4 linked regions of the Homo sapiens genome follow. The protein of the gene in region 1 purifies or fractionates together with the protein of each later gene. This does not show direct contact. Each region holds a gene or a part of one and is shown on either strand. Other genes may lie near its edges. The genes, in order: TAF13, TAF7L, SMARCC2 and PFKL.

Region 1 (8,072 bases):
AGAAAAAAAAACTGTGCCTCTATTGAATATGTATAGACTTTTTTCCTTGTCACTATTCCCTAAACAGTATAGTATAACAACTATTTACATAGCATTTACATTGTATTAGGTATTGTAAGTAACCTAGAGATGATTTAAAATATACATAGGATGTATTTAGCTTATATGCAAATACTATGCCATTTTATATCTGGGATTTGAGCATCTGCAGATTTTGGTATCCACGGGAGGTCCTGGAACCAAGCTCCCAAGGATACTAAGGGACAACTGTATACATGTGCGCACACACACACACACACACTCACACACTTGTAATCACTACTAAGATCAAGATACAGAACACTTCCAGCATTTGACAGCATTTCTTACCATTTACATATACCCCTTTGATAATCTGATAAAAGTTATAATTATTCCCAGAAAAATGCCCATGTACAGATAATGTATAAAATTTTTCCGTATGATTTCAGGGTAGTCTCAAGGACTTCTTTTTTTATTTTTTGAGGCAGAGTCTCCCTCTTTCGCCCAGGTTGGAATGCATTGGCATGATCTCAGCTCTCCGCAACCTCTGCCTCCTGGGTTCAAGCTATTCTCCTGCCTCAGCCTCCCAAATAGCTGGGATTACAGGTGCGTGCCACCACGCCCCCCTAATTTTTGTATTTTTAGTAGAGACGGGGTTTCACCATGTTGGTCAGGCTGGTCTCAAACTCCCGACCTCAGGTGATCCGCCCACCTTGGCCTCCCAAAGTGCTGGAATTATAGGCGTGAACCACCGCGCTGGCCTTCAAGGACTTCTTAAAGCTTGTCTCTGGACTGGGAGTTTATAGGCGATAGGATAAGAACCTCTGTGGATCTCAGCTGGGTGTGGTGGCTCACACCTGTAATCCTAGCACTTTGGGAGGCCAAGGCAGGAGGATTACTTGAGTCCAGGAGTTCAAGACCAGCCTGGGCAACAAGGTGGGACCCTGTCTCTACGAAAAAATAAAAATAAATAAATAGTTAGAAACCAGTTCAAAAACTGCCTAGGCAACATAGCAAGACCCCTGTCTCTAGAAAAAATTTTAAATGGCTGGGTGTGGTAGCTTAGGCCTGTAATCCCAATAATTTGGGAGGCCAAGGCAGGCAGATCACTTGAGGCCAGGAATTCAAGACTATCTGGGCAACGTGGCAAAACCCTGACTCTACTAAAAAATACAAAAAAATTAGCTGGGTGTGGTAGCGCATGGCTGTAATCCCAGCTACTTGGAGGCTAAAGTTTGAGAATCTCTTGAATCCGGGAGGTGGAGGTTGCAGTGAGTTGAGATCGTGCCATTGCACTCCACCCTGGGTGACACAGTGACACTTCTGTTTCAAAAAAAACCCCACATATTAGCCAGGCATAGTGGCATGTGTCTGTAGTCTCAGCTGCTCACGTGAGCCAGGGAGGTTGAGGCTGCAGCAAGCTGTACTGCAACACCACTCCAGCCTGGGCGACAGAGCCAAGACTGTCTCAAAAAAGGAGAGCAAAAAAAAGAATTCACACGGATCCTGTCTGCCCTAAACTACAACTACCAACAAGTGCGATGCTGTTGTGGGTATGAGTAAAGACGCGAACCAGATCAGCTGGGTTCAAACTCAGGTTCCATCTCTTACTAGCTTTGTGACCTTGGGTAAATCAGTTACTGCAGTGCTTTAATTTTCTCATCTATAGAATGGGGATAATCAATAGTTTCTACCTTAAAGGATCATTGTGAGGATTAAATGAGTTATATATGTAAAGGACTTAAGACAGTACCTGGCATATAATAAGGGCTATATATGTTTTATCTTTTGGCAGTTATTTTTATTTGTCTGTATTAGACTTCTCTCTTATTATTTTTGAGACACAGTCTCTCTTATTATTATTATTATTTTTGAGACACAGCCTCCCTCTGTCACCCAGGCTGGAGTGCAGTGGCGCATTCTCAGCTCACTGCAACCTCTGCCTCCTGGATTCAAGCGATTCTCATGCCTCAGCCTCCCGAGTAGCTGGGATTATAGGCATGTGCCAACACCCCCAGCTGACTTTTGTGTTTTTTTTTTTTTTTTAGTAGAAACAGGTTTTCACCTTGTTGGCCAGGCTGATCTCAAACTTCTGGCCTCAAGTGATCTGCCTCAGCCTCCTGAAGTGCTGGGATTACAGGCGTGAGCCACCATCCAGGCCTACGCCCAGCTAATTTTTGTTTTTTATGTAGAGACAGGGTTTCGCCATGTTGCCCAGGCTTGTCTCAAACTCCTGAGCTCAAGCAGTCTACTTGCCTGGGCCTCCCAAAGTGCTGGGTTTACAGGCGTGGGCCACTGCACCCGACCTAGACTTATCCTTTGCATTTCCTATGGTTTCTTCAGATGAAGCCTGAAAGGGCTTTGCTGCAGTTGTATTGATCTAGGAAATGTCAAAATTCCTTGTAGTAAGCCCTCTGCTTTCTCATTTTGAGTACCCTGTTTCTTCCTATAAGAACAGATTTGGGGCTGGGCGCGGTGGCTCACGCCTGTAATCCCAGCACTTTGGGAGGCTGAGGCACGCAGATCACCAGGTCAGATCATCGAGACCATCCTGGCTAACACAGTGAAACCCCTTCTCTACTAAAAATACAAAAAATTAGCCGGGCGTGGTGGTGGGTGCCTGTAGTCCCAGCTACTCGGGAGGCTGAGGCAGGAGAATGGTGTGAACCCAGGAGGCGATGGAGCTTGCAGTGAGCCAAGATGGTGCCACTGCACTCCAGCTTGGGCGACAGAGCGAGACTCTGTCTCAAGAAAAACAAACAAACAAACAAACAAAAAAAGTATTTGGAGAACTGTCTCTCATGTCTTTTCCCCTATGGTAATATCAGTAAAGAGTCTGCCGTTTTTCCAACGCCCCACTGCCATGCCCACACACAAAAACCACCTCCAAAAAAGGCTAAGCTGTTGCTGTCTGTCCTGTCCTTTGCCAGAGTTTCCTACTTAAAGGTGTTCTGCTGGGGGCAGGGACTGGTAAGTAGATGCTAGAGATTAGGAAAAGACTGTTTACCTTAGGGTTCAGTAGGTGGGAGGAAGGAAGAGTTTTGCTGGAGGCTACGTGGGAACAGTTGGTCATCAGACTGTTCTTAAACCTTTTACACAAGAATCCATACTTGGAGATAACAAATACGATGTAAATATGTTTTCATACCAATATTATCTATAACTTGGTTCATTTCTACTTTATTTTTTTAAAGTATCAAATTGTTAAATCTGTAAAAGTAAACAAAAGTAAGTGATTGTTCTTTTACAGTGCGATGTATGATGTATGGCTTTGGGGATGACCAGAATCCTTATACTGAGTCAGTGGATATTCTTGAAGATCTTGTCATAGAGTTTATCACTGAAATGGTAAGATTCTTTCCTAACTGGTCTTAGTTAATTGAAGAATAGATTTGAAATATTAAACTTTAGGTAAGACTAGAACTTATGGCATCCCTTTGAAATAAGCTATCCATTTGAGTGCTTGTTTGCAGAAGTTATTGGTTACTATTTATCATTGAGGATGGAGGTTATACATGTATATTCTATCCCCCCTTCTTCCTTTTGTTTTTTTTTTTTTTTGAGATGGAGTTTCGTTCTTGTTGCCCAGACTGGAGTGCAATGGCACGATCTTGGCTCACTGCAACCTCCGTCTCCCGGATTCAAGGGATTCTCCTGCCTCAGCCTCCGAGGAGCTGGGATTACAGGCATGCATCACCACACCCAGCTAATTTTGTATTTTTAGTAGAGACAGGGTTTCTCCATGTTGGTCAGGCTGGTCTCAAACTCCCAACCTCAGGTGATCCGCCAGCCTCGGCCTCCCAAAGTGCTGGGATTACAAGCGTGAGCCAACGCGCCCAGCCTCTTGCATTTTTTATAAGGACATAATTATAAAATCCTTGAATAAAATAAAAATATTATCCATAATACCATTATCCAACATAGGTTTTTTTTTTTCCCCTCCTTTTCCAGTATTTAAAGATACGCAATTTTTTGTGTGTGTGTGTCTGTGTGTGTGACAGGATCTCACTCTGTTGCCCAGGCTGGAGTGCAGTGGCATGATCATTGCTCACTGCAGCTGAGACCTTCCGGACTCAAGTGGTCCTCCCACCTCAGCCTCCCAAATACCTGGGACTACAGGCACATGCCACCATGCTTTGCTGATTTTTGAATTTTTTGTAGAGACAGGGTCTCACTATGTTGCCCAGGTTGGTCTTGAACTGCTGGGTTCAAGCAATCTACCCCCTCAGCCTCCCAAAGTGCTGGATTACAGGCATGAGCCACTGTGTCTGGCTCAATGCCGTATTATTAAGTATTTAGCTTCTATTTTTTAATCATTAGAAATAATGCTGTGATAGGTCTTTGATTTTGCACAGGTGAGTATATAATGACAGGATGAGATAGAGTTATTTGATTTTTAGAAAACCCACCAATATTTATTGGGTATTAAGATAGAGGAGGACACAAAGCATAAATGAAATGGGTGGGTACACAAAATTATAAAATTATTTTATATAAATGAAGACAAAATCTACATATATCAAAAAACAAAAAAGGAACAATAAAGTTGACAGCTTTCATGTCCTTAAGATTTTTTTTAAAGTGCCTGTGAAGCATAAAGGAGAACATTGCTAATAATCCAGTAGAAAATAGACAAAGGACATGAGTAGAAAGATAATTCACAAATGAATAGCCATAATAATAATAATAAGAGAAAATCTTCTACCTCACTTGCAATTAATAAATGCAAATTAAAACAGTAAAATATTAGATTTAAAAAAGTTAAATGTAATATGTTTCTTTGTAATAGACTCACAAGGCAATGTCAATTGGAAGACAAGGTCGAGTACAAGTTGAAGATATCGTCTTCTTGATTCGAAAGGACCCAAGGAAGTTTGCCAGGGTTAAAGACTTGCTTACTATGAATGAAGAATTGAAACGAGCTAGAAAAGCATTTGATGAAGCAAATTATGGATCTTGACACTTTTTGTAGTTTCCGAAAATTACCATCTGGGGAAACCATATATAATAATTGTATATTTTCTAAAGTAAGATTCTGATATCTAGCCATGTAAATGAAAGATGGAGAAACACAAAGTTTTCAGCCTTTATTTTTATGCCTTTGATTTTAGGGTGATATTGGTGCATGTAATTGCCTGCCTTTATATTACCATACTTGAATTACTTACTGGGTTTTAATGACCACACATAAGTCAAAGTACCTTGCAAACCATGCCGTTGTTCTGACTTTTGACTATTTAAAGGATAAAGTAGTATTTAATGTGTTAGGTATGTTTATGCCCTTGTAAGCTATACTGTAGCTTTTTTTTTTTTTTTTTTTTTTTTTGAGATGGAGTCTCACTATGTTGGCAGGCTGGAGTGCAGTGGCGTGATCTTGGCTCACTGCAGGCTCCACCTCCCGGGTTCAAGTGATTCTCCTTCCTCAGCCTCTCGAGTAGCTGGGAAGTACAGGCGCCTGCCACCACGCCTGGCTAACTTTTTGTATTTTTAATAGTGACGGGGTTTCACCATGGTAGCCAGGATGGTTTTGATCTCTTGACCTCGTGATCCACCTGCCTCGGCCTCCCAAAGTGCTGGGATTACAGGTGTGAGCCACCGCGCCTGGCCTACTATAGCTGTTTAATATGTGAAATCTAAATGGCATTTTTGACTTGACAGCTCAGACTTGTACTTCATGTATTCAGAAGTTTTTAGACAACAATTAGTTTATTGTCTAGTTCATTATTAAAGATAATGAACTAGGCCGGGCGTGGTGGCTCACACCTGTAATCCCAGCACTTTGGGAGGCTGAGGCGGGCAGATCACTTGAGGCCAGGAGTTCCAGACCAGCCTGGCCAACATGGCAAAACCTCACCTCTACTAAAAATTAAAAAATTAGCCAGGCATGGAGGCATGTGCCTGTAATCCCAGCTACTTGGGAGGCTGAGGCAGAAGAATTGCTTGAACCCAGGAGGCAGAGATTGCAGTGAGCCGAGATGGCGCCACTGCACTCCAGCCTGGGCAATAGAGTGTGACTCTCAAAAAAACAAAGATAATGAACTGGTTTGCATTTCTTTTAAAGAGATGATAGAGGAAAATATAGTTTTTTGTAAGAATGTTTATCTCTCTTAAAAGATAATCTTTTAATTTTCTTCAGATAACAAGTTATTATTATTTTTTAAGAAAGCAAGTTTCACGGGCCGGGCGCGGTGGCTCACGCCTGTAATCCCAGCACTTTGGGAGGCCAAGGCGGGCGGATCACGAGGTCAGGAGATCGAAACCATCCTGGCTAACACGGTGAAACCCCGTCTCTACTAAAAATACAAAAAATTAGCCGGGCGCGGTGGCAGGCGCCTGTAGTCCCAGCTACTTGGGAGGCTGAGGCAGGAGAATGGCGTAAACCTGGGAGGCGGAGCTTGCAGTGAGCCGAGATCGCACCACTGCACTCCAGCCTGGGCGACAGAGCGAGACTCCGTCTCAAAAAAAAAAAAAAGAAAGCAAGTTTCACATGAATAATGCTGTGTTGGAAGGCTTTTTGATTTAAAATCTTTTCGGATTTATAACATCCTGTTAAGTTTTAGGAGAACCCGTTTTCCCAGAGCAGATTCAAGCTTCTAAAAATAAATGCTTTCAGTAGCAGGAATGGCATTGTTTAAAAAGCTGATGGCAGGGTAAGCATTTGGGTTAGTGTTTTATTAACATATTTGTAAGTACTTGTTCATTGTGGAAATGTGTCCTTGACTAAAACCATACGTGGCTATGGAAACCATGTTTGTAGTTCTGAATACACAGGTTTTGTGTGTATTTACTCTATGTATTAAATTATTATTGCCCTTAGTTTAAAGTAAGGATTACAATTGGATTTAAGTAGATCACTGAATGTTATTGTTTATGAAACTTAACTTTTTGTATGCTGCTTATAAACATGATCTATAAATCAGTGCTTGGGAAAATTTTACTTTCTTAATCTACTGATACAGGAATAAAATATGAACAATTAAACAGGTTGATCCTTGAATCTGACTGATTTGTGACTTTTTTTCCTCCCAGAATATTATGCCCATTACTGGTAATATGATAATTCTTGCTGCTTAGTCTAGCTGAAAATTTTTTTTATTTCAGTGAGTATCTGGGTGAATCTTTTCATTTAAAAAAGCAGGACTGGGCCGGGCGCGGTGGCTCAAGCCTGTAATCCCAGCACTTTGGGAGGCCGAGGCAGGTGGATCATGAGGTCAGGAGATCGAGACCATCCTGGCTAACACGGTGAAACCCCATCTCTACTAAAAAATACAAAAAAACTTAGCCGGGTGTGGTGGCGGGCGCCTGTAGTCCCAGCTACTCGGGAGGCTGAGGCAGGAGAATGGCGTGAACCCGGGAGGCGGAGCTTGCAGTGAGCCAAGATCACGCCACTGCACTTCAGCCTGGGGGACAGAGCGAGACCCCGTATCAAAAAAAAAAAAAAAAAAAAAAAGCAGGACTGGGCACCATGGCCCATGCCTATAATCCCAGCACTTTGGGAGGCCTAGGCAGGAGGATCTCTTGAGCCCAGGAGTTGGAGACCAGTCTGGGCAACATAGAGAGACCCCATCTCAACTAAAAATCAAGGCCAGGCACAGTGCCTCACACTTGTAATCCCAGCACTTTGGGAGGCCAAGGCAGGTGGATCACTTGAGGTCAGGAGTTCCAGACCAGCCTGGCCAACATGGTGAAACCCTGTCTCTACTAAAAATACAAAAAAATTAGCCGGGCGTGGTGGCATGCCTGTAGTCCCAGCTGCTTGGGAGGCTGAGGCGAGAGGATTGCTTGAGCCCAGGAGTTGGAGACCAGCCTAGGCAAGCCCCATCTCTGTAAAAAAAAAAAAAGAGCCAGGCACAGTGGTTTCCGCTTGTGGTCCTAGCTACTCAGGAGGTGAGGTGGGAGAATCACTTGAGCCTGAGAGGTCAAGGCTTCAGTAAACTGCTCACTCTGTCACCCAGGCTGGAGTGCAGTGGCACAATCACTGCTCACTGCCTCGACCTCCTGTGCTCAAATAATCCTCCCACCTCAGCCTCCCGAGTAGCTGGGACTACAGG
Region 2 (8,072 bases), on another chromosome or scaffold:
TGTTGTGCCACAAATAGAAATTAGGATTTTGATGGGGAATAAGCAATTGCAAACAACTGCTGTTAAAAGTGAGCTCTGGCTCCCAAGGAATGGCTTTTGAAATAAATATCAGAATAAAAAGAGCAGATTAGAATACACGGGGTCACTGGCCAAATTGTATCTTTTCCTCTAGCAGTTATCAAACATCAAACAATGAATTCATTTTTTAGTGAATCAAACCCAGTGTATGTGTTTAGGATGAGGGTTAGAGGTGAGAAGGAAGGCTCAAAAGTAGCTTCTGTGGTTTATTTGATTCATTTGAAACTAATGAGCTATTAAATAAAACACATTAAGGGTAAAAATGAAGTTATATTATGATTGCTCTACCTCAGTAAAGCTGCTTTTTTCCATTTCTTTGACATCAGGGACCTATGAAATAAAACACAATAAACAAGTTATATTATGATACCTATATTTCAGTAAAGCTTAAAGAGCTCTACAACTATCCTTAACTTAGTTTTACATTTAGTAGGCACTCAATAAATGTTGATTTACAGAGTATAAAAGCCAAGGCAACTGTGTTCATGGATTGGAAGACTCAATATAGTAAAAATGTCAGTTCTCCCCAAATTGATCTACAAGTTTAATGTAATTCCTGCCAAAATTCTAGCAAGGTTTTCTATAGCTATAGACAAGCTTATTCTAAAATTTATATTAAAAGATACAGGCTTTTGGCCAGGCGTGGTGGCTCATGCCTGTAATCTCAGCACTTTGGGAGGCCAAGGCGGGCGGATCACGTGAGGTCAGGAGTTCGAGACCAGCCTGGCCAACATGGTGAAACCCGTCTCTACTAAAAATACAAAAATTAGCCGGGCATGGTGGCCCATGCCTGTAATCCTGGCTACTTGGGAGGCTGAGGCATGAGAGTCGCTTGAACCCGGGAGGCAGAGACTGCAGTGAGCAGAGATCGTGCCATTGCACTCCAGCCTGGGCAACAGAGCGAGACTCCATCTCAAAAAATAAATAAATAAATAAATAAATAAAGATATGGACTCTAGAATGGCTAAACAATATTGACAAAGAAAAGTAAAGTCAGAGCAATCAGCCTTCTAATTTCAGGACCAATTATATAGCGACACTGTGATATTGGTGGAGGGATTGACAGATGGATCAGTGGAGGAGAATGGAGAACCCAGAAACAGACCCATAAAACCAAGCCCAACTGATATTTCACAAAGGTGCAAAAGCAATACAACAGAGGAAGAATAGCCTTTTCAACAAATAGTGCGAGAGCAATTAGACATCCTTTGGCAAGAAAAGCAAAAACAAACAAACAAACAAAAACAAAACAACAACAACAACAAAAAAAAAACCTTGAACTAAACCTCATAGCTTTTACAAAAATTAAGTCGAAAATGGGCATCAGGCTTAAAAAGATGTAAAAAAAAAAAAAAAGCAGGAGAAAATCTTCAGGATCTGGGCTAGGCAAAGAGTTCTTAGATTTACTATAAAAAGCAAGATCGTTTTCAAAAAAATCAATATATTGTACTTCATCAAAACTAAAAACTTTTGCTCTCTGAAAGACCCTACGAAGAGGATGGAAAGACAAGCTACAGACTGGGAGAATATATTTGCAAACTACATATCTGATAAAACACTGGTAGTATTTAAAATATAAAAAGAACTCTCAAAATTCAATAATAAAAAATCAATTTAGAAAATAGGCAAAAGGCATGAGCAGACATTTCGCTGAAGTGGAATAGATGGCACATGAGATGCTCAACCCCGTTAACCATCAGGGAAATGTAAATTAATACTACAATGGGATCACTATGCACCTATCAGAATGGCTAAAATGAAAAATAGTGACAACACCTAATGCTGGTGAGGAGGTGGAGAAACTGGATCATTCATACATTATTGGCAGGAATATAAAATGGTACAGTCACTCTGGAAAACAGGTCATTTCTTACAAAACTAAACATGTGACTACCATATGACCCAGCAATTATACTCCTGGACATTTATTCCAAAGAAATGAATACTTATATTCACACAAAAACCTGTTCACAGCTTTATTTATAATAGTCAAAACCTGTAAACAACCCAGATGTCCTTCAAAGGGAGAACAGTTATGTAATGTGGTACATTCATACCATGGAATACTACTCAGCAATAAAAAATAAACTATTGATGCTACAAAAACTTATATGGATCTTAAGTGAATTATGCTGAATGAAAAAATAAGCTAGTCTCTGATGTTATATACTATATAATTCCATTAATATTAAATTTTTGAAATGACAAAATTACAGAGATAGAGATCAGATTAGTGATTACCAAGTGTCAGAGACTGGGGTGTGAGGTGGAAGGGAAGTGGGCATGGTTATATAAAAGCAAAATGAGGGATCCTTGTGATGAAACTGTTTTGTATTTTGACTGTGTAGACAGATACATGAACTTACACATGGGATAAAACTGCATAGAACTAAACACATGCACAAAAATACACGAGTACAAGTAAAACTGGAGAAATTGGAATAAGATTGCAGAATTCTAATCATGTCAATTACCTGTTTGTGGTATTGTACTATAGTTTTGCAAAATGGGGAAAATGGCGAAAGGGTACACGATATCTCTCTTTTATTTCTTACAACTGTATATGAATTTACAATTATTTCAAAATAACATGTTTAATTTTAAACAAAAGAAGAAGCCAAGCCACAATACTCCTGTAGTTTGCCCAAGATTCTACAAGCCTGAAATAACATTAGGAATATAACCACAATTCCCAATTTTCAGGTTCTGGATGGGTTCACTTTAAAACTAGATCTTGCAATAGAAAACTGAAAGCATTAACAGAAGTTTCAAATGTATGATTCTTCCAGACCCCAAATGACTAGCCTATAACCTCAAGGATCAGGTCTTTTTATTCACTGCTATATTCCCTACTGCTAGCATACAGTGCCTGGCATTTAGTTCACATTCAATAAATGTTTATTGAACATATAAATGAATTAAAAATTAATTCCCAACTGACTTTTTCTCTTTTCTTCTGGCCCATGATCCTCTTCTAATCGGCCCGGCAGACACACAAATAGCATGTAACTAACCTTTTTTTGTGTTTTCCGGAACCTTTTCTTTCTGACATTCTTAAGTGGTGGCGTAACTAAAATAAATACAACACAGTGAAACGTTATATGACTGATGGTAGTCACATAGCTGAATTTGATAAAGACAAAGATCATGCTATAAACCAAAGGGTCATGACATCACTCCTTTTTTTTTTTTTTTTTTGAGATCGAGTCCCACTCTGTTGCCCAGGCTGGAGTGCAGTGGTGCGAGCTCAGCTTACTGCAACCACCTCCTCCTAGGTTCAAGCGATTCTCCTGCCTCAGCCTCCCGAGTAGCTGGGATTACAGGTGCCCGCCACCACACCCAACTAATTTTTGTATTTTTAGTAAAGACAGAGTTTCACCATGTTGGCCAAGCTGGTCTCGAACTCCTGACCTCAGGTGATCCACCCGCCTCGGCCTCCCAAAGTGCTGGGATTACAAGCGTGAGCCACCGCGCCCAGCTGACGTGACTCCTCTTAAAGAGTATCTGAGAACCTAATGAACCAAACACCTAAGTGTGGTAAGACGTCCCTGTTTCACAAGGAATTAGGATTCAGCAAATAAATTTTAGTCAGCAGGAATGAGCAAGGGGCTGGTGACTTACTGCCATGCTTCCAGACACATTTTTCTTCTCTCCCCCTTTCTTTTTTCCTGACTATATTAGGATCAGTAGAGGCAGCTGGTTCTTCTGGAGAAAGGTGGATATCACCATCAGCAGTGCACACAAGCATCTACATTTAACAAAGACAAAGAAGTTGACTATGACCACGAATTTTGGGTTAGCAATCATAATCATTCTTACCACTAGAAATGCACAGAAGAGACTGATACTTGCCATTTCCAGAAAACCAAGTATTTTGTAATGTACATTTATATTCTCTCATTTTTGCAGTCTCTCTCTCTCCCTCTCCTCCCCACCACCAGCCACCAGCAGCACTACATATGAACTCTGAAGGTGCTTTGTTTTGTTTTTTTTTTTCCACGAGAGTGTTTACCACTACAGAGGGAATATATTGGAAACAGATCTTGGAACTTAGCTTAGGTTTTTTGTTTTGTTTTTAGACAAAGTCTTGCTCTGTCATACAGGCTGGAGTGCAGTGGTACGTGATCATGGCTCACTGCACCCTCGACCTCCTGGGCTCAAGTGATCCTCCCACCTCAATCTCTAGAATAGCTGGGACTACAGGTGTGTGCCACCACACCTGGCTAATCTTGTTTTTGTAGAGATGAGGTCTCACTATGTTGCCCAGGTTGGTCTCAAACTCCTGGGCTCAGGTGATCCTCCCACCTCAGCCTCCCAAAGTGTAGGGATTATAGGCATGAGCCATTGTGTCTGGCCTATCTCAGCATTTTGATTTAGAGAGGAAATAAGAAATCAACAGCAGAGATGATGAATAAGAACCAATTTAAACCTCCAGAGTTAACAACATACTGTTTTAATACAAAGTTCAGAAGATCCCAGCAGCTCATATGTTTCAATTAATGAAAAGTCACTATAAGTGGCAAATGGGACTCTCTATAGGCTATTTGGTCAAAATACAATACTGAAAGCTAAGGATCAAACACCAAACGAGAACATGACATTTCATTCCTGTGCAGTCAATCTGGAAATTAGAAATGCCAAGCAGCCATTCACCAAGTGGAAAGGAGTACTGAAAGAAAGAAAAATAGGAAGAGAAAAGAATTCCTTGAAGGATGTGAGGCTAGTAAAGAAAACTAGTCCATACCTGAGAAATGTCTGCTGTTTTATAAAAGGTTTTTTTATCAAGCGTTCTCAGGCTTTCAATAACACAAGGCAAGTCAACCAGCTTAGCAGCTAGTGGGACATCTTCTACTTCAACAACTGCATGGCGCCCATCAGCTGAAGAGAAGTAAAGATTAAAGTTGATATCTTCCCAGTGAACTCTTAAACTTCCTAAGGTTTGAATAATGAAGACTTATGTGGGACAGATTAGTCTTTCCAAGAAACCTACTATCTCTCATAATGCTAGAATTGTGTACACAATTAATAGCTTCCTAAAGAAAAGAAATGGAAAGTATATGGAGCTCTTTTTTCCTAGTTTACGTCACTTGTGCAAAAGTAGCTAAGTTTCTTGTTAATGGATGTGAACTAAATATAGGTGAAGTAATAAATGTTTCATTCTCATCCTGAAAAGCAAATTCCATTCATTAAAACCAATTCCTTTTTTTTTTTTTTTAGAAGCATTCAATCGTGTCATTGTACATGTGTGTTTTCAAAGGGCTGGGTGAGGGAAGGGTTGACTGACCCTAGAATGGTGCTAATAAATCTCAAGTTAAATCTCTAATTAGCTTCATAAAGATAAAATTCTATACAACAGCCATATACTAAACTCTGAATATTGCTGCTCAGATGTCCCAAACATAAATGTCTTTTGACACAAGAGGATTCAGGTATAATCTTCTAGTATTATGTGAAAAAAGAAAGATACAAAACAATGTTTATCATTTTGTGTGAATTAACTCTAAAAATAGAGAGATTGCTTCAATTCTAGTATTATGCATAAGAGTTTTGTCAATAAGGAAGTAACAAGAAACAGTATCAGTTATCTGTGGTATTGAGGTTGGGGCACCATAAGGAAGAAGAGTTTTATTTCTCCTTTCGAACTTTTCTTTTTCATTTGATTTTTTTATTTTTCTTTGAGAAGGAGTCTCACTCTGTCACCCAGGCTGGAGTGCAGTGGCATAATCTCTGCTCACTGCAATCTCCGCCCCCTGGGTTCAAGCAATTATCATGCCTCAGCCTCCCAAATAGCTAGGATTACAGGTGTGCACCACCATGCCCGGCTAATTTTTGCATTTTTAGTAGAGACGGGGTTTCGCCATGTTGGCCAGGCTGGTCTGGAACTCCTGACCTCAAGTGATCCGCCCGCCTCAGCCTCCCAAAGAGCTGGGATTACAGGCATGAGCCATCACACCCAGCCTGTTTTATTTGAATTTTCTAACTATGAACTTATATTATCTTTTTTAAAAAATGTCAGTAAGTGTTAACTAACTGGTGAGATTATGAGCCACTTTTTGTTTTCTCCTTTATATGCTTCTCTGTATTAAAAAAAAAAACTAGCAAAATTTATTTATTTTTGGTTGTGTGTTTTTTAGGCAGATAAACTTGTGTGGAAACATTTATTTATTTATTTACTTATTTACTTATTTATTTACACATGCTCTTGGTGCAAATGGCCTCTAGATTCATCCATGGTGTCCCAAATGACAGAATTTTGTTCTTTTTAAAAGGCTGAGTAGTATAGCATTGTGTATACGTATCACATTTACACTTAGGTTGATTCCATATCTTGGCTATTGTGAATAATGCTACAATGAATATGGGAGTGCAGAGAGATATGCCTTCAACATGTTGATATCAATTCCTTCTGTGAATATATTCACAGAAGTGGGGTTGCTGGATCACATGGTTGTTCTATTTTTAGTTTTCTGAGGAACCTCCATACCATTTAAAAAAAATAATGGCTGTAGGCCAGGCACAGTAGCTCACGCCTGTAATCCCAGCACTTTGGGAGGCTGAGGTGGGTGGATCACTCGAGGTCAGGAGTTCAAGACCAGCCTGGTCAACATGGTGAAACCCCATCTCTACCAAAAATACAAAAAAATTAGCCAGGTGTGGTGGCGCATGCCTGTAGTCCCAGCTACTCGGAAGGCTGAGGCAGGAGAATTGCTTGAACCCAGGAGGTGGAGGTTCCAGTGAGCCAAGATCGCGCCACTGCACTCCAGCCTGGGTGACACAGCAAGACTCCATCTCAAAAAAAAAAAAAAAAAAAAAAGGCTGTATTAATTTACATTACCACCAATAGGGTACAAAGTTTCCCTTTTCTCCTCATCCTCATTAACAGTTGTTATTGTTCTTTTTTTTTTTTTAATAAAAGCCATTCTAACAGGTATGAGGTGATATCTCGCTGTTGTTTTAATTTGCATTCCCCTAATGATTAGTGATGCTGAGCATTTTTTCATGAACCTTTTGGCTACTTGTATGTCTTCTTTTGAGAAATATCTGTTCAGATCCTTTGCCCATTTTAAAATCAGGTTATTTGTTTTCTTGCTATTGAGTTGTTTGAGTTCCTTATATATTTGGATATTAACCACTTTATTGGATGTACAATTTGCCAATATAACAAATATTATTTAAAAGAAAAATATATGTCACTGGCCAGGCACGGTGGCTCACGCCTGTAATCCCAGCACTTTGGGAGGCCAAGGCAGGCGGATCACAAGGTCAGGAGTTTGAGACTAGCCTGACCAACATGGTGAAACCACGTCTCTACTAAAAATACAAAACTTAGCCGGGCATGGTGGCATGTGCCTGTAATCCCAGCTACTTGGGAGGCTGAGGCAGAAGAATCACTTGAACCCAGGAGGTAGAGGTTGCAGTGAACCAAGATTGCGCCACTGCACTCCAGCCTGGGCGACAGAGCGAGACTCCATCTCAAAAAAAAAAAAAAAGAAAGAAAGAAAGAAAGAAAGAAAGAAATACATGTCACCTTTATAAACAAAGAATGGCATATCCATTTGTCATTCCCTTGGATGTTCAGAAATCATAAAGTTTATATATGGGAGGCTACCAGCAGTATAAAAACCCCACAGTTGACCCCCAAGTTTCCTTAAACACACTATGATAATCACTCAACTCAAGGTGCAATATTCCTACTTCCTTTCCTCTTAAAAGAAGAGGACTTAAGCCTCTCTAAAGCATGAGTCCATCAAGTCAGAGACCATATTCTATCATTTTTCACATCCTTAGTACCAAGTACAGTGTATGGCACATAGCAATCCCTTAATAAATTATTGTTCAATGTATAGTGAATGGATATTAACTACTTACGCAATAAGTCAATTTTTAGTTTATCCTTCATCTTGACACTTTGAGAACGTGCTAGGTTCCTGACAGTACAAGCATGTTCCTAAAAAGGAGGTAAATTGAAAAATCAGAAGAACTAAACATCTACT
Region 3 (5,704 bases), on another chromosome or scaffold:
GATCTTGAAGTAGCACTAAGAAAGGATATGAAGTTAATGAAATGGCCCAAATCCCCAGCCTGGAGCTGGTCCTGAAGCTCACTGGAGCCTTGACCTCCTAGGCTCAAGCAATCCTCCCACTTAGCCTCCTGAGTAGCTGGGACCACAGGTGTGTGCCACCACACCTGGCTAATTTTTAAAATTTTTCGTAGAGACGGAGTCTCACTATGTTGCCCAGGTTCATCTCGAACTCCTGGACTCAAGTGATCCTCCTGCCTTGGCCTCCCAAAGTGCTGGGATTACAGGCGTGAGCCTCTACACGGAGCCCACTTCTGTTTTCAGAGAAAAACTCTCTTTTCTTTGCCCCAATTACCTCCAGGAGAAGCAGGGTTTCCTGTTCTGTCCACTCACGAGTGGCACTGGCTGCAGCCTTGCTCTGCAGGGGAAACACAGGCAGGTGAGAAGAAAGGAGCCTGTGACCTCTGAGGAGCGAACATTCTCTACCCCTAGAGTCGGCCCGCACCTCCTACCTTGGAGGGAACATTCTTTTTTGTGTACATGTCTGTGCGCAGCCCAAAGTTTTGCATGTCTGTTGGTTTCTCTTTGCCTTTGTCAGGAAAGTTGAGCATTTGTTGGGAAGCAGAGGTCTGCTATTTGTGGAGGGAAAGAAACAGGTGAGTACAAGTGACCACCGGGAGCCAGGGGCTGACAGAGAGAAAAAACAGACAGAAGGAGCTTCTTTCCCAAAGCCAGGGACACCCCTGGGTGGGACTTCCTCCCTTACTGCTGTAGTTCCTCTGCTCTCATGTCTCTTCTTCCCGGGCAGGGGCCCCCCAATAAAGGGGAAAATGAGCAGCCCAGCAGGGTCTGCACCCCACCTACCAGCTCTGGCTTGCCCTTAGCCGTCTCTGGCACCAGGTCATCCAGCTCTTTGCCCTTTCGCCCAGCCTTGGTATCAGCATCAACCTGGCGGCCCTGGGGGACAGAGCTTGGCGTCATGGAGGCTGGGCAGGAAATGACCAGGCCAAGGCCCTGGAGGCCTCAAGACCATATGCTGGGCGGCCCACAAGCTCTGGGGGCACTCATGCCACTGTTCCATGTTCCCTTCATGATTAATAAGACATGTCGTTGGCATGATATCCATACATATTCACATTATCTTTATAGGTTCTCTTAGGAGCTGGACAATTAGGTTCTAATCCTAGATTTGGTACTCTGTGACCTTGGGCAAGCCACATAACCTTCTTCCTAATTTTTGTAATGGATGAAGTGGAAATGGAAAAAAAAATGAAGATGATAATTATGAGGCAAAAATGAAAAAATGTGGCAAAGATGACAAAGTTTAAAAATTTCATGCAAGTTAATTTTAAGCCATTTTTCTCTATTGACTCCCCTACATTAGCCTGTCTACTCCTTGAGTAAAAGGATAATCTCTTCTCCCTCAGCAATTACAGCCTTAGGTACAAAGGCTGAGAGAGGATGCTAAACACATGGGGCTGATTCCCGTGACCCTTTGCATCCCATGGAAAAGGAAGAAGCCTCAAAACACTCCTGAACCATTACCCTAAAAACCAGAAAAAGAAAAGTTCAAAGAAGCCCAATCTTCCCAACCCGCCCCATCCCCATAGCACCTCACCCTACCTGAGGTGTCTTGGGCTGCAGAGGCACCAGCCCTGATGGTGTGTCAGCCAAGACATGGAAGTGAGAGGTAGGCGGAGGCCCCATTGGGGTTGGTCGACTCTCAGCATCCACCTGGTAGTTAATAAGACCCCACTGTTCTAGGAAGGCATGGACCCTGTGCAGAGAGAGGCAGAGACAGGGTCACACGGATAGCCAGAAAGGTGCACGAGGAAGAGGAAAAGTGGGGGGTAGAAGGGGCATAAACCCCCTCCCCACCCAACCCCGGCCTTTTCCTCTGTTCATTGTACTCCTTAAGAAATCTCACCTACTCCAGTTGTTCATTTATCACCTAAATGCCAGTGACACCCAAGTCTACATCTTCAGCCTGGGCCAATCTCTATATCTACCTACCTACCGAACATTTCTTCCTGAATAGCTAGTAAAACTGAACCAGTTTCTTTCTTTTTTTCCCTAAGAGAGACTGAAGTGCAGTGGTGTGATCACCGCTCACTGCAGCCTCCACCTCCAGGGCTCAGGGGATCCTCCCACCTCAGCCTCCTGAGTCACTAAGACCACAGGCACGTGCCACCATGCCTAGCTAATTTTTTTGCATTTTCTCTAGAGATGGGGTTTTGCCATTTTGTCCAGGCTGGTCTCGAACTTCTGGGCTCCAGCAATCCTCCCACCTTGGTCTCCCAAAATGTTTGGATTATAGGCATGAGCCACCACACCTGGCCTGAACCAGTATCTTTCAATTACAGACATGCTCCTTCTTTGTCCTATATTCTACACTTCAGAGAATGCCATTGCTAATCCCTCAAGTCATTCATTCCCCAAACCTGTACTTCACCTTTCTCTAGAGGTGCTTTTTTCTGTCTGCTCCTCTGTGTTCCTTGCTGGCATCTCTACTGTTGCCAAAACACATCCATAGGCAGGCATCCTCATGTACCCCCTTCCCCTCAGCCACAAGACCCACCTCATGATGGCACAGACATCACCCGCTAGGTTTCGGCGGCAGGCGGTAGAGGTAAGATACTCTTGGGGGTTCAGTCGGTAAGTGTCAATCATAAAGTTTCGATAGGCCAGGTAGCTTAGAAGAAAGAGAGAGAGAAACAAGAAGAAGAAAAATAAATGTTTGTTAAAGGGCTAAAGGAAAAAATGGTAAGAGAGCTAATGACTTCTCCTGCATGATAAAGATGGAAAAAAGTAGATTATTTGACTCTACATGCTGAGTGCCTGCTATGTGCTAGATGAAAGGGTTTCAAATATGTCTTACTTTTCCTTGATGGGGTTTTCTTTAAATGAATTATCTCCTTGGCTATACTTAGGGATATTTCATACAATTTTTTTTTTTGAGATGGAGTTTCCCTCTTGTTGCCCAGGCTGGAATGCAATGGCATGATCTTGGCTCATGGCAACTTCCGCCTCCTGGGTTCAAGAGATTCTCCTGCCTCAGCCTCCTCAGTAGCTCTGATTACAGGCATGTGCCACCACGGCCGGCTAATTTTGTATTTTTAGTAGAGACAGGGTTTCTCCATGTTGGTCAGGCTGGTCTCAAACTCCTGACCTCAGGTGAGCCTCCTGCCTCAGCCTCCCAAAGTGCTGGGATTACAGGCATGAGCCACTGCACCTAGCCATTTTATACAATTTTTAAACAAGGAATTAGAAGTTAAGAAAATACTCATTTCCAAACTCAGATGTTAAAAGGAAGTCCTTATTCATGCATATAGCTAGTCAGCATACCACGGTAAAAAACATATGTTTTGAAGTTGAAAAGATCTAAGTTCAAATCCCAGTTCTACCATGAGGACCTTGGCAATTTACTTCGAATTTTTAAACCTCAGTTTCCTCATTTGTAAAATGGAATGTCTGTTGAGAGGTCTATAAAGTACTAGTATAGTGCCTGGCGCATTGTAGGGGCTCAAAAAAATGGCAGCTATCATGTGGTACAGTGTAAAGTTTCAGATCATGGGCCAGATTAAAGGATTCAGATCCTGGTTTTATTTACTAGCTCTGTGACTTTATGCAGGTGACTTGACTCCTCTATACCCTATCTGTCAACTGAAGATGATATCTACCTCTAAGGTTGACGTAAAGATTAAATTACTCAATGTAGGTTGGACATTTAGTATAGTGCCTGGGAGATACTAAGCTCTCAATAGATGCAGGCAATTATCATCATTTACTATTTTTTTTTTTCTGAGATGGAGTTTCACTCTTGTTGCCCAGGCTGGAGTACAATGATGAGATCTTGGCTCACTGCAACCTCCACCTCCCGGGCTCAAGTGATTCTCCTGCCTCAGCCTCCCAAGTAGCTGGGATTACAGGTGCGTGCCTCCACACCCAGCTAATTTTTGTATTTTTAGTAGAGACGGGGTTTCACCATGTTGGCCTGGCTGGTCTCGAACTCCTGACCTCGTGATCTGCCCGCCTGGGCCTCCCAAAGTGCTGGAATTACAGGCGTGAGCCACCATGCCCAGCCATCATTTACTATTTTATACCAAGAGTTCAGTTCCTACTCCAACCCTGCCTGCATGTCATGTTGAATTCATTTCACCTGATCACTACTTTCTTTTCACACATACTGCTTTCTCCAGGAAGAGAAGGAAGAGAGAACCATAGCAAGCTATGAAGAAAAAACACGGAGGGACCCCCAGAGAGGGGAAGCTGTGGAATAGCTGGGAAGAAAACTTGTTCAGTTCTCAGTCTCACCCACCTCATCAATGTGGTTATCTTGAAGTATTCCTAACCAAAGAAGACTGCCATGTCTTATCCAAAGCCAAGCAGGTTTGGCCTGAGGCAAAATCTTTTTTTTTTTCTTGAGACGGAGTCTTGCTCTGTCGCCCAGGCTGGAGTGCAGTGGCGCAATCTCGGCTCACTGCAAGCTCTGTCTCCCAGGTTCATGCCATTCTCCTGCCTCAGCCTCCCAAGTAGCTGGAACTACAGGCGCCTGCCACCACGCCCAGCTAATTTTTTTTTTTTTTGAGACGGAGTCTCGCTCTGTCACCCCGGCTGGAGTGCAGTGGCGTGATCTCGGCTCACTGCAACCTCTGCCTCTCAGGTTCAAGTGATTCTCCTGCCTCAGCCTCCAGACTAGCTGGGACTACAGATGCATGCCACCACGCCCGGCTAATTTTTTTTGTTTTTGTTTTTTTGTTTTTTTTGAGACGGAGTTTCACTCTTGTTGCCCAGGCTGGAGTGCAATGGCGTAATCTCGGCTCACTGCAACCTCCGCCTCCCGGGTTCAAGCGATTCTCCTGCCTCAGCCTCCCTAGTAGTTGGGATTACAGGCACGTGCCACCACGCCCAGCTAGTTTTGTATTTTTAGTAGAGACGGGGTTTCTCCATGTTGGTCAGGCTGAGCTCGAACTCCTGACCTCGGGTGATCCGCCCGCCTCAGCCTCCCGAATTGCTGGGATTACAGGCATGAGCCACCGCGCCTGGTCTTTTTAGTAGAGATGGGGTTTCATCATGTTAGCCAGCATGGTCGCGATCTCCTGACCTTGTGATCCGCCCGCCTCGGCCTCCCAAAGTGCTGGGATTACAGGCGTGAGCCACCACACCCAGCCTTGTTCATTAATTTTTTTAGATACGGGGTCTTGCCGTGTCAGCCAGGCTGGAGAGCAGTGGTGTGATCATGGCTCACTGCAGCCTCAAACTCCTGGGCTCAAGCAATCTTCCCATTTCAGCTTCCGAAGTAGCTGGGACCACAGGTATGCCCCACCAGGCCCAGCTAATTTTTTTTCACTTCTTTAGAGATGGGAGTCTTGCTATGTTGCTCATGCTATTCTTGAACTCCTGGCCTCAAGGAATCCTTCTGTCTCAGTGTCCCAAGTAGCTGGGATGATTTACAGTCGTGAGCCACCGTGGCTCCTACACTTCTTTCCCAGTGAGCCCTCTCCATCCCTTAATTTATATAAACTGGTCTTCTATTAGTTCCTTCTCTTGTTTTTCTATTAAAACCTACTCTCAGGAACCAGCCTGGTAATAGTAATTTACACTTTAATCAAAACTTTTGTGCTAGGAATATCTGCAGTATAGACGATATCAGTAATATGGATTTAAAGGCTCTATACCCTGTTAAAAAGAAGTTGAGGCACTGGAG
Region 4 (8,072 bases), on another chromosome or scaffold:
CTGCCCCCAGTGGGCAGGAGGCGGAGAGGGTCACTCAGGCTGCCGCCGCCCCAGGCTCAGCCCCGTGGTCAGTGTGGGGAGCTTGGTGAGGCTGCTTACTGGGGTGGGACTGCTGAGCCTGGGGCGGTGGGAGGTGGTTGGTTGTGAGGGAGTGGCCCCAGCAAGGTCCAGACGGCAGGGCTGTGGGGGTGGCGAGGCCAGGAGCTGGGCCAGTGGGGAGCAGGGCCTTCCCCTGAGGGCGGTCGGGGCCCGGGGGTGGGTTCTAGGCTGGAAAGATGTGTCGGAACGTGGCTGTAGCCACAGGGTGGACAGGAGGTCCCGGAAGCAGGAGAGGGTGGGGAGGCTGCTGGGAGGCCGAGACCGCCTCTGGGAGGGATGGGGGGGTGCCTGGTGGGGAGGGGTGTGTCTGGAGTGGGGGTGCCTGGAATGCCGCCCTCTGGTTCCCTTGGGGTGGAGTTGGGGGCTCTGGCCTAGAACAGGCTGACACTGCCCTGTGGACCCTGAGACCCCTCAACTGGGACAGGTCGGCCCCTTGGTGGGGTGGGGCTCAATGGTGGACCAGAGGCACGGGCCATTCAGGCTGTCCTTCGCCCACACCCGACCATGCAGGGCAAGGCCAGGGGCCCCCGTGGCTCTAGCTCTGTCCTCTGTGCGCTGAGGCTGAGGCAGGACCACTGGAACCAGCCCTGGGGGCAGAGGGTGGGTTTGGGACTGACACGGTATCCCTGTCCCCGTGTGAAGGTGGCAGCGTCACTCCCATCTGTGTGGACACTGGTTCCACCTCCGCGTGGCTGTACAGTGCTGCCGAGGGCAGTGGGAGAGGCCGTGGGTAATGACCTGGCTTCTAGAACCTTCCCCAGTGGAGCCTAGGGGCCGGGCGGAGATGGAGCCCAACAGGCGAGGCTGGCCCAAGGTGCGGGTCCTATGAGGGGCTTGCTCTCCTAGGGCAGGGACTTCCCGGGGGTTCCGGCTCCAGTGGTGACCTTGGCCTTAGCTTATGTCTGTGACTCACATTGGGCCCTCCTGGAAGTGGCCTGGATGCAAGGTCGGCCCACCTGGTTCCTTCCTGCTCTGTGTGAGCAGCTCAGGCCCTCACTGAGAGTCTGTTTCCCCCTGTAACATGCGGGTTCCCGCCTTGCCCACCACCCAGGGTGCACTGGGGCAGGGAGGGTGGCACAGCTCTCCTGCTGGACCTGCAGCCCATCTTCCGGGTGTCTGACCTCACCTGCACTGGCGCCACCTCCTCCAGGTAGCCCTCCACTCCCACCACACCCGGGCCCTGTCTGAGCTGCTCCAACCCTGTCCCTGTAGGAGGCATTGTGGCCCGTGGTGGGCAAACATGGGGCTTGTGGCTCAGAGCGAGTCCCACAAATGTTGGCTGGGTCATTGAAGTGGACGGCCGAAAAGCTCTTTCAGTTCCCAGAGAGCTGGGCCGCGGCTGGTGTGTGGTGCTGAGGCAGCAGCCTGAGGCTGGCAGAGGGGATGGTGTGTCCTATGTGCACCAGTGTGGACCCACAGTGGCTTCAGGGTGCAGGGTGTCCGGGGAGCCCTGGCTGGTGCCAGCGATGCGGGGCCCCTGGTTATAAGGATGAGCAGATGGAAGCTCACAGGGGCCCCAGGTACCTGGCCCAGGCTAGCCCGGGCAGGCCCCTCTGCCCTGTGCCCCGTGGAGCTGCAGCCCTGTGCGTCTTCCCGCCTGGAAGGCTTCACCAGACACAAGGGCCCAGCCCCAGCTGTGTGTGTGCTGGGCCCAGCCCCGAGGGCCCCCTTCCTCCCCTGCTGCCCTTCCCAGGCTTTCGGGCAGAGCCCTCTTGTTCACCGCCTCCAGGAGGGCGGGGCGTCCTAGTGGGCCCAGCCTCATCTCTGCCCTCGCGCTCCAGGCCTGCTTTCCTCCTGCTGGGTGGGGATTGTGCCCTGGCCCATGTGGGTTGGGAATGGTGGCCCCAGGGAGGGCTCCTGGCACCCGGGGGCTGTGTCCGGGGCAGGTTTCCCTGCCTGGCAGCTGAGCCCTGTCGTGTCTTTGACCCAGACTCGGAGCCGTGGGTCCCGACTGAACATCATCATCATCGCTGAGGGTGCCATTGACCGCAACGGGAAGCCCATCTCGTCCAGCTACGTGAAGGACGTGCGTGTGGGCCTGGGGGTGGCCACTGGGCACCTGCTCCTCTAGGCCGTGTGGGCTGGGGCTCAGGGCTGGTCCTTCCCACTGTCCTGCAGCTGGTGGTTCAGAGGCTGGGCTTCGACACCCGTGTAACTGTGCTGGGCCACGTGCAGCGGGGAGGGACGCCCTCTGCCTTCGACCGGATCCTGGTAAGTGGCCATCACCCTGCCCTGCGTACGTGCGTGGGTAAGCGTGGTGTGTGGGTGTGGGTGTGGGCAGTGTGCACGCGAGCATGGCACGTGCACTGTGTCCATGTGGCTGTGGGTGAGTGTCCGTGTCTGTGTGTGGGGGTGTATGTGTGGGGGACGCGTGGTCCTTGTGGGTGTGTCTGTGTGTGTCTGGTCCGTGTGGGTGTGTGTGGCAGTGTGTGTGGGTGTGTGTCAGTGTGGGTGTGTGTGGGTGTTCCCTCAAGCTGTTGCTCCTCCTGGGGGAGACTGAGGCCTGGCTTCTCCGTTCCCCTGCAGGTATAGGGAACTCAGACCTGGGGACCATGGGAGGCCCCCCACCAGCCTGTGCCTCCTGGCTGTTCTGACCCCCACCCTCTGCCAGCCCAACGTGGCAGCAGTCAGGGCCAGGGGCAGGCCCTGGGAGAGGGGCTGGGTGGGCAGAGGGTGGTGCCCATGGCGCCTGTGGCGTCACAGTCTGGGAGGCTGGTGCTGGGAGGGAGCATTCGGGGTCTGGCCTGGCCTCGCCGTCCTTGGTCCTGATCACCGCTGGGTCTCACTTTGTCCTCTGCAAAATGGGAATGAAGTTGGAGCCAAATGGAGTGGGTCTGGGGCCAGGAAGGCACCATGGTAGGCAAAATGCCTGTGTATGAGGGTGGTCACCCTCTCAGGCAGGGCCAGAGACTGTCAGACAGGTGGGACTTGTGCTGAGGGAGACCAGGTGACTGCGCCCAGCCCTGTGACTGCACCTGGCCCTGTGACTCGTGTGCTGAGCCGAGCATTCCCAGGGAACCCACACAGCTGGACGAGGGCCACTCTATAGAGGGGAGGCTTCCTCAGAGAGGGGCCCCGCCGACCTAGCCAGGCAGCTGCTGTCCCCTCTGTGAGGCCTCAGGCTCACTCTGAAGAGCCTCTTGAGGGGCCGGGGACATCAGGGCAAGCCAGCCGCTGCTGAGCCTGGGGTGATGGAAATGCCGCTGCTGTGACCGGGCCAGCCATGCACTCCCAGCCTGCAGGCTGCTGGGTTTTCCAGCCAGTGTCTTGGATGCCTGATGCCGGGTGTGAAACAAAGGACAGTTGATCGCCCCTAGCCGCGGCTGTCACCCAGAGCGTCAGCATTCTTGTGCTCCCTGAGCCCGTATTCCCACTGGGTGCTGCGAAGGGGCCAGGGGACCCTAGCACGTGCAGTGGTAACCTGCACTTTTCCAAGGAGCCTCATCCTGCATGGGGGGTGTCTCCGAGGCTGCTCCCTAAACAGCGTCCTGGAGAGACTGCCCAGAATAAGGTGCCGCCTGTGCCTCACTTGCAAGATGAAAAAACCTGTGTGGAACACGGAGGGCTGTCTGTGGCCCCGGGGGTCCAGCTGCTGGGCTTCTACAGGGCTGGCCACTGGTGGTCATGGGACGGCCACGGCAACCGCAGGCCTGGCTTTCTTGTCCACTGTGGCCGGTTCCCGGGGTGGGGCTGGGGCCTGCCTTTGCAGTGTGTCCCTGGGGGGCAGCTCCTGGATGTGTCCTCTGCCCAGCCCTTTGGCCGGTGCGGACACACACCAGGGAAGTCACGACATGAGGGCCTCCACGGGAGGATCCATCGCAGCGGATGGGGCCCTGGGGACCTGGCTCCCGCCCTTGCCTTGCGCGCCTAGCGATGGCAGCGAGCGACGGTGGGTGGGTCGCATTGCATGGCACCCTGCAGCCAGCAGTGCAGGCTGGGCCTTCCAGCAGGGCAGCGAGGACTCTGTGAAATGGTGTCTGGTGTGCCGTCGTGAATGCTGGTCAGACACGTTTCCATCTCTGATGCCACCTGTTCTGGAAGCTTCCGTCAGCGTGGGGGGCTCTGGAAGCTGGGGTTTGCACATCTACAGAGGATGGGCATGTGGCTTGGGGTAGAGGGACCAAGTGGGTGTGCCAGCCTGAACCCTTCCCCACAGAGCAGCAAGATGGGCATGGAGGCGGTGATGGCGCTGCTGGAAGCCACGCCTGACACGCCGGCCTGCGTGGTCACCCTCTCGGGGAACCAGTCAGTGCGGCTGCCCCTCATGGAGTGCGTGCAGATGGTAAGCCCTGGGCCCCCCCCATCAGAACCGCCTGGCCCCTCTCCCCAGTCCCCACTCACAGGCCCCACTGCTCTCTGGGGGCCCCAGCACTGTGAGCACCGGAGGGCAGGGCCTCGTGGCTGGCCCAGGGCATCCCAGGTCTCCAGGGAGGGGAGGGATGTGAGCACATCCCTGGGTGGGACGTGGGACCTGGGACGTTCCCCAGGAGGTGTGTCGGAGCTGCAGGGAGCCTGGTGAGCATGGGAAGTCACAGGGGTCCACGGCCACTGAGCTTCTGTAGGCAGTGGTGGGAGTTGGGGTTACGATGGGACGGAGGAGGAGGGGCCAGTGATCAGAGCAGAGCCCTGGGAGGAGCTCAGGCAGGTGATGGGGAACACTGGGGTGGCTGGAGCAGGGACCCCAGGAGAGGAGGTACGGGGAAGGCAGAGGCGAGGGGGCCGGGTGTGGGGGCTGGTCCAGCCCTGGCTCGGTGGGTTTGGAGGCCTGCAACTGGGGCAGAGTGCCCTGCCTGGAGCTGGAGCTGCTGAGAGGTGAGGAGGGCAGCTGGGGGCAGGGTAGGGCCTCCTGGTCTCAGCCAGCCCCAGAAGAGCTGGCCTTGGTGGTGACCGCTGTTCCTAGGGAGAGGCTGCCAGGCCTGGGCCAGGGTCAGGAGATGCCGGCCAGATCTGCCCTCGTCAGGCCCACCAGACAGGGCAGTAGCCATGGGTGTGCGGGCCAGGCTCTCCATAGTCTGTGTTCTGTTTCTCTTCCTTAAGACCAAGGAAGTGCAGAAAGCCATGGATGACAAGAGGTTTGACGAGGCCACCCAGCTCCGTGGTGGGTAAGCCCCCTCAGCAGACCCCTGCACTCTTACATGGCTGGGTCCCGGTGCCAGGCAGCATGTGCTGCAGTGGCGCTATGCACGCCTGGCCTGGGTCATCCTTCTAGGCACCGCGTCTGAAGATCGAGGGAGGAAGGGGCCTGCGGGTGGTACAGGAGGCGGGCTGGGAGGTGTGGTACCACAGGAGACCCTGGGCGGTGGCACGGGCAGGGCCCAGTGCACAGGGATCTGGGCATGGCGAGGGGATGAGAAGCTGTGGATACAAGCCCAGGACATGGGGTGGCCCCGCGGGGGCTGGGAAGGCTGGCAGATGTTGGGTGTGGGTACCACCCCCCTGCAGGCGTCCTGGCGGCCGGGTCAGGCTGGATTGGACGTCTGGGTTCCCATGCGTGCCTCCACCCGCTACCAAGGTGGCCAACCCTCCCTTGAGCTGGATGCCGGCCACGTGCTTTGCTGCACGGGCTGGCGTGGCCTCGTGTTGTGTTGGGGGTCTCGCACCTTCTGTGGAAGGTGCCCTGCCTGGCATGCGCGGTGTCTGCTGCCTCATGGCTGAGCTTCCATCGGGCCGTGTGCCTGTGACCAGCCTCCTGGGCTCTGTCACGGCTGCGCTGTGGCTGTACGCCGTGGCGCTGCAGGGCTGTGCATGGTGTGACCCGAATCCCTTCCAGGAGCTTCGAGAACAACTGGAACATTTACAAGCTCCTCGCCCACCAGAAGCCCCCCAAGGAGAAGGTGAGGCAGGGAGCGGCGCCCACAGAGGGAGGAACGGGCTCAGTTATTCTGCAGCCTCTTCACGCTGGCCCCGTGGCTGGGCCTGCCTGCCCCCACCTTCCCTCCTGCTGGGGTCCGAGCTGTGAGCTGGGAGGGTGGGCCTGACCTCTGCCTGGGCTCAGGCACCACTGTGGCTGGCAGGTCCCGGGTGCTGGGACCCTGGCTGCAGGGCTGGCTGTTGCTTCTCAGTGGTGGATGGAAATGAAGTCAGGCCACAGGCTTAACTCAGGAGAGGAGAAGCCATTGTGTAGAAAATGTCCCCCGGGGCCAGGCTCACACCTGTAATCCCAGCACTTTGGAAGGCTGAGGTGGCCAGTTCACCTGAGGTCAGGAGTTCGAGACCAGCCTGGCCAACATGGTGAAACTCCGTCTCTACTAAAAATACAAAAATTAGCTGGGCGTGGTGGTGGCACATGCCTGTAATCACAGCTACTCAGGAGGCTGAGGCAGGAGAATAGCTTGAACTTGGGAGGTGGAGGGTGCAGTGAGCCGAGATCGTGCCATTGCACTCCAGCCCGGGCGGCAAGAGTGAAACTCTGAAAATAAAATGTTCCCAAACAGCTGAAAACCTCAGGAAATGGGATCTCTCCAAAATAAGGATGAAATGGCTTGTTTCTAAAGTCCTGGGGGACGAGGGTCCTGTAGAGAGAGTCACGGCCAGTGAGGTCCTGGCTCCCAAGCCCCTTGAGCCACAGCCGGAGCTGCAGGCCGGGGCAGACAGCGTGGCCCAGCCTGAGTCTGGTCCTCCCTTCCATGGACATCTTTGGGTGTCCCTGCTGCTCCAGCCTCCTGCTTATCCCCAGAGCTAGTCAGCGGGCTCTACCCTCCGTGGTGGGGCAACCTGGTCTCCACGAACCCAGAACCTGGCAGGGGCGTGACTGGCTTTGTGGGCAGCAGGGCTGGCTCGTACCAGGACCCAGTGGGGCCATGTGGCTATGGAGCCCTTGGGTGTGGCTGCTGCCAAGTGGGATGTGCTGCACGTGACAGGTGCACGCCAGGTTCAGAGCCTCAGCACGGTGGGTGGAGGGGAGGTGGTGGCGGCCGTCACTGGATTCACATGGATGTGGTGGGGTTTTGGGTCCATCAGGTTAAATTAACTGTAGTCCTGATGGGACTGTCTCCATGTCTTTTCCCTTCCCTTAACGTGGCTACTAGAAAACAGGATAGCCAGGGCCCCTTCCTTACTCGTGGCTGTGCACCCCCCACCCTCCCGCCCGCTGCCAGCCCCTTGTGTGGGCACTGACCTGTGTTCCCGCCCGCAAGCCTGGCTTCACAACAGTGCTCGCCCCTTCTGCCTCCTCTGTTGCCTGCGTGCCAGGGGGCCAGGCTTGCACCGTGTCTCTTTTGGTCTTCACCAGAATCTTCTGGAATTAGAACAGATACCGTATTCCCAGGGCAGTTGGGCGGTGTGCTGGGCAGCGTCCAGGCTGCTGGCAGGGCCTGGCCCCTTTTTCCAGAACCTGCCGGCCTGCTGACCTCCTGTGCAGGTTGGGGGTCCCCTCCCCGGCTGTGCCTCACGCTCATCTCCCCTTCTCTCTGAAGTCTAACTTCTCCCTGGCCATCCTGAATGTGGGGGCCCCGGCGGCTGGCATGAATGCGGCCGTGCGCTCGGCGGTGCGGACCGGCATCTCCCATGGACACACAGTATACGTGGTGCACGATGGCTTCGAAGGCCTAGCCAAGGGTCAGGTGGGTCCGGCCGGGGCAAACAAGTGAGGACTTGGGCCTTCTGTGTGCACACTTGGGGCATTTCCTGTGGAAGGCCGGCTGCTGGAGGTGGAGGCTGAGACCTGGGTCCGCGTGTCGGTGCCCACCCGGGCCTGGGTACTCAGCTCTGCCTGCAGCGTGATGCCCAACACTGGCTGGCCCCCGGGCACAGGCCCACCCCTGGGGGGAATTGGCCAGAGGCTCAGGCTGGCCCCTGAAGCTGCATCTCCTCCTGGCAGGTGCAAGAAGTAGGCTGGCACGACGTGGCCGGCTGGTTGGGGCGTGGTGGCTCCATGCTGGGGACCAAGAGGTGAGCTGCCTGCTGCGGGTACCTGGGGGCAGGAGGGCCAGGGCGCAGTATCCAGGCCCTGCAGGTGGGGGCGGCAAGGGGAA

The links.
Region 2: the proteins of TAF13 (region 1) and TAF7L purify together in Homo sapiens (affinity purification with mass spectrometry; 3 studies listed by BioGRID and IntAct, with this or other methods). This does not show direct contact.
Region 3: the proteins of TAF13 (region 1) and SMARCC2 purify together in Homo sapiens (affinity purification with mass spectrometry, with the first as the bait; one large-scale study listed by BioGRID). This does not show direct contact.
Region 4: the proteins of TAF13 (region 1) and PFKL purify together in Homo sapiens (affinity purification with mass spectrometry, with the first as the bait; one large-scale study listed by BioGRID). This does not show direct contact.

Annotation. Positions count from the first base shown.
Region 1 is NC_000001.11:109,061,432-109,069,503, reverse strand, and holds the end of TAF13 (transcription initiation factor TFIID subunit 13), read left to right. Parts: intron 1-3,271; coding exon 3,272-3,369; intron 3,370-4,810; coding exon 4,811-4,981; 3' UTR 4,982-5,364; downstream 5,365-8,072. UniProt on the Homo sapiens protein: The TFIID basal transcription factor complex plays a major role in the initiation of RNA polymerase II (Pol II)-dependent transcription.
Region 2 is NC_000023.11:101,278,628-101,286,699, forward strand, and holds part of TAF7L (transcription initiation factor TFIID subunit 7-like), read right to left. Parts: intron 8,027-8,072; coding exon 7,948-8,026; intron 4,957-7,947; coding exon 4,823-4,956; intron 3,827-4,822; coding exon 3,700-3,826; intron 3,149-3,699; coding exon 3,093-3,148; intron 409-3,092; coding exon 367-408; intron 1-366. UniProt on the Homo sapiens protein: Probably functions as a spermatogenesis-specific component of the DNA-binding general transcription factor complex TFIID, a multimeric protein complex that plays a central role in mediating promoter responses to various activators and repressors.
Region 3 is NC_000012.12:56,172,076-56,177,779, forward strand, and holds part of SMARCC2 (SWI/SNF complex subunit SMARCC2), read right to left. Parts: intron 2,690-5,704; coding exon 2,576-2,689; intron 1,775-2,575; coding exon 1,621-1,774; intron 955-1,620; coding exon 862-954; intron 630-861; coding exon 510-629; intron 416-509; coding exon 353-415; intron 1-352. UniProt on the Homo sapiens protein: Involved in transcriptional activation and repression of select genes by chromatin remodeling (alteration of DNA-nucleosome topology).
Region 4 is NC_000021.9:44,314,215-44,322,286, forward strand, and holds part of PFKL (ATP-dependent 6-phosphofructokinase, liver type), read left to right. Parts: intron 1-430; exon of another isoform or gene 431-832; coding exon of another isoform or gene 833-913; intron 914-2,029; coding exon 2,030-2,125; intron 2,126-2,217; coding exon 2,218-2,310; intron 2,311-4,255; coding exon 4,256-4,381; intron 4,382-5,136; coding exon 5,137-5,201; intron 5,202-5,869; coding exon 5,870-5,933; intron 5,934-7,514; coding exon 7,515-7,661; intron 7,662-7,918; coding exon 7,919-7,989; intron 7,990-8,072. UniProt on the Homo sapiens protein: Catalyzes the phosphorylation of D-fructose 6-phosphate to fructose 1,6-bisphosphate by ATP, the first committing step of glycolysis.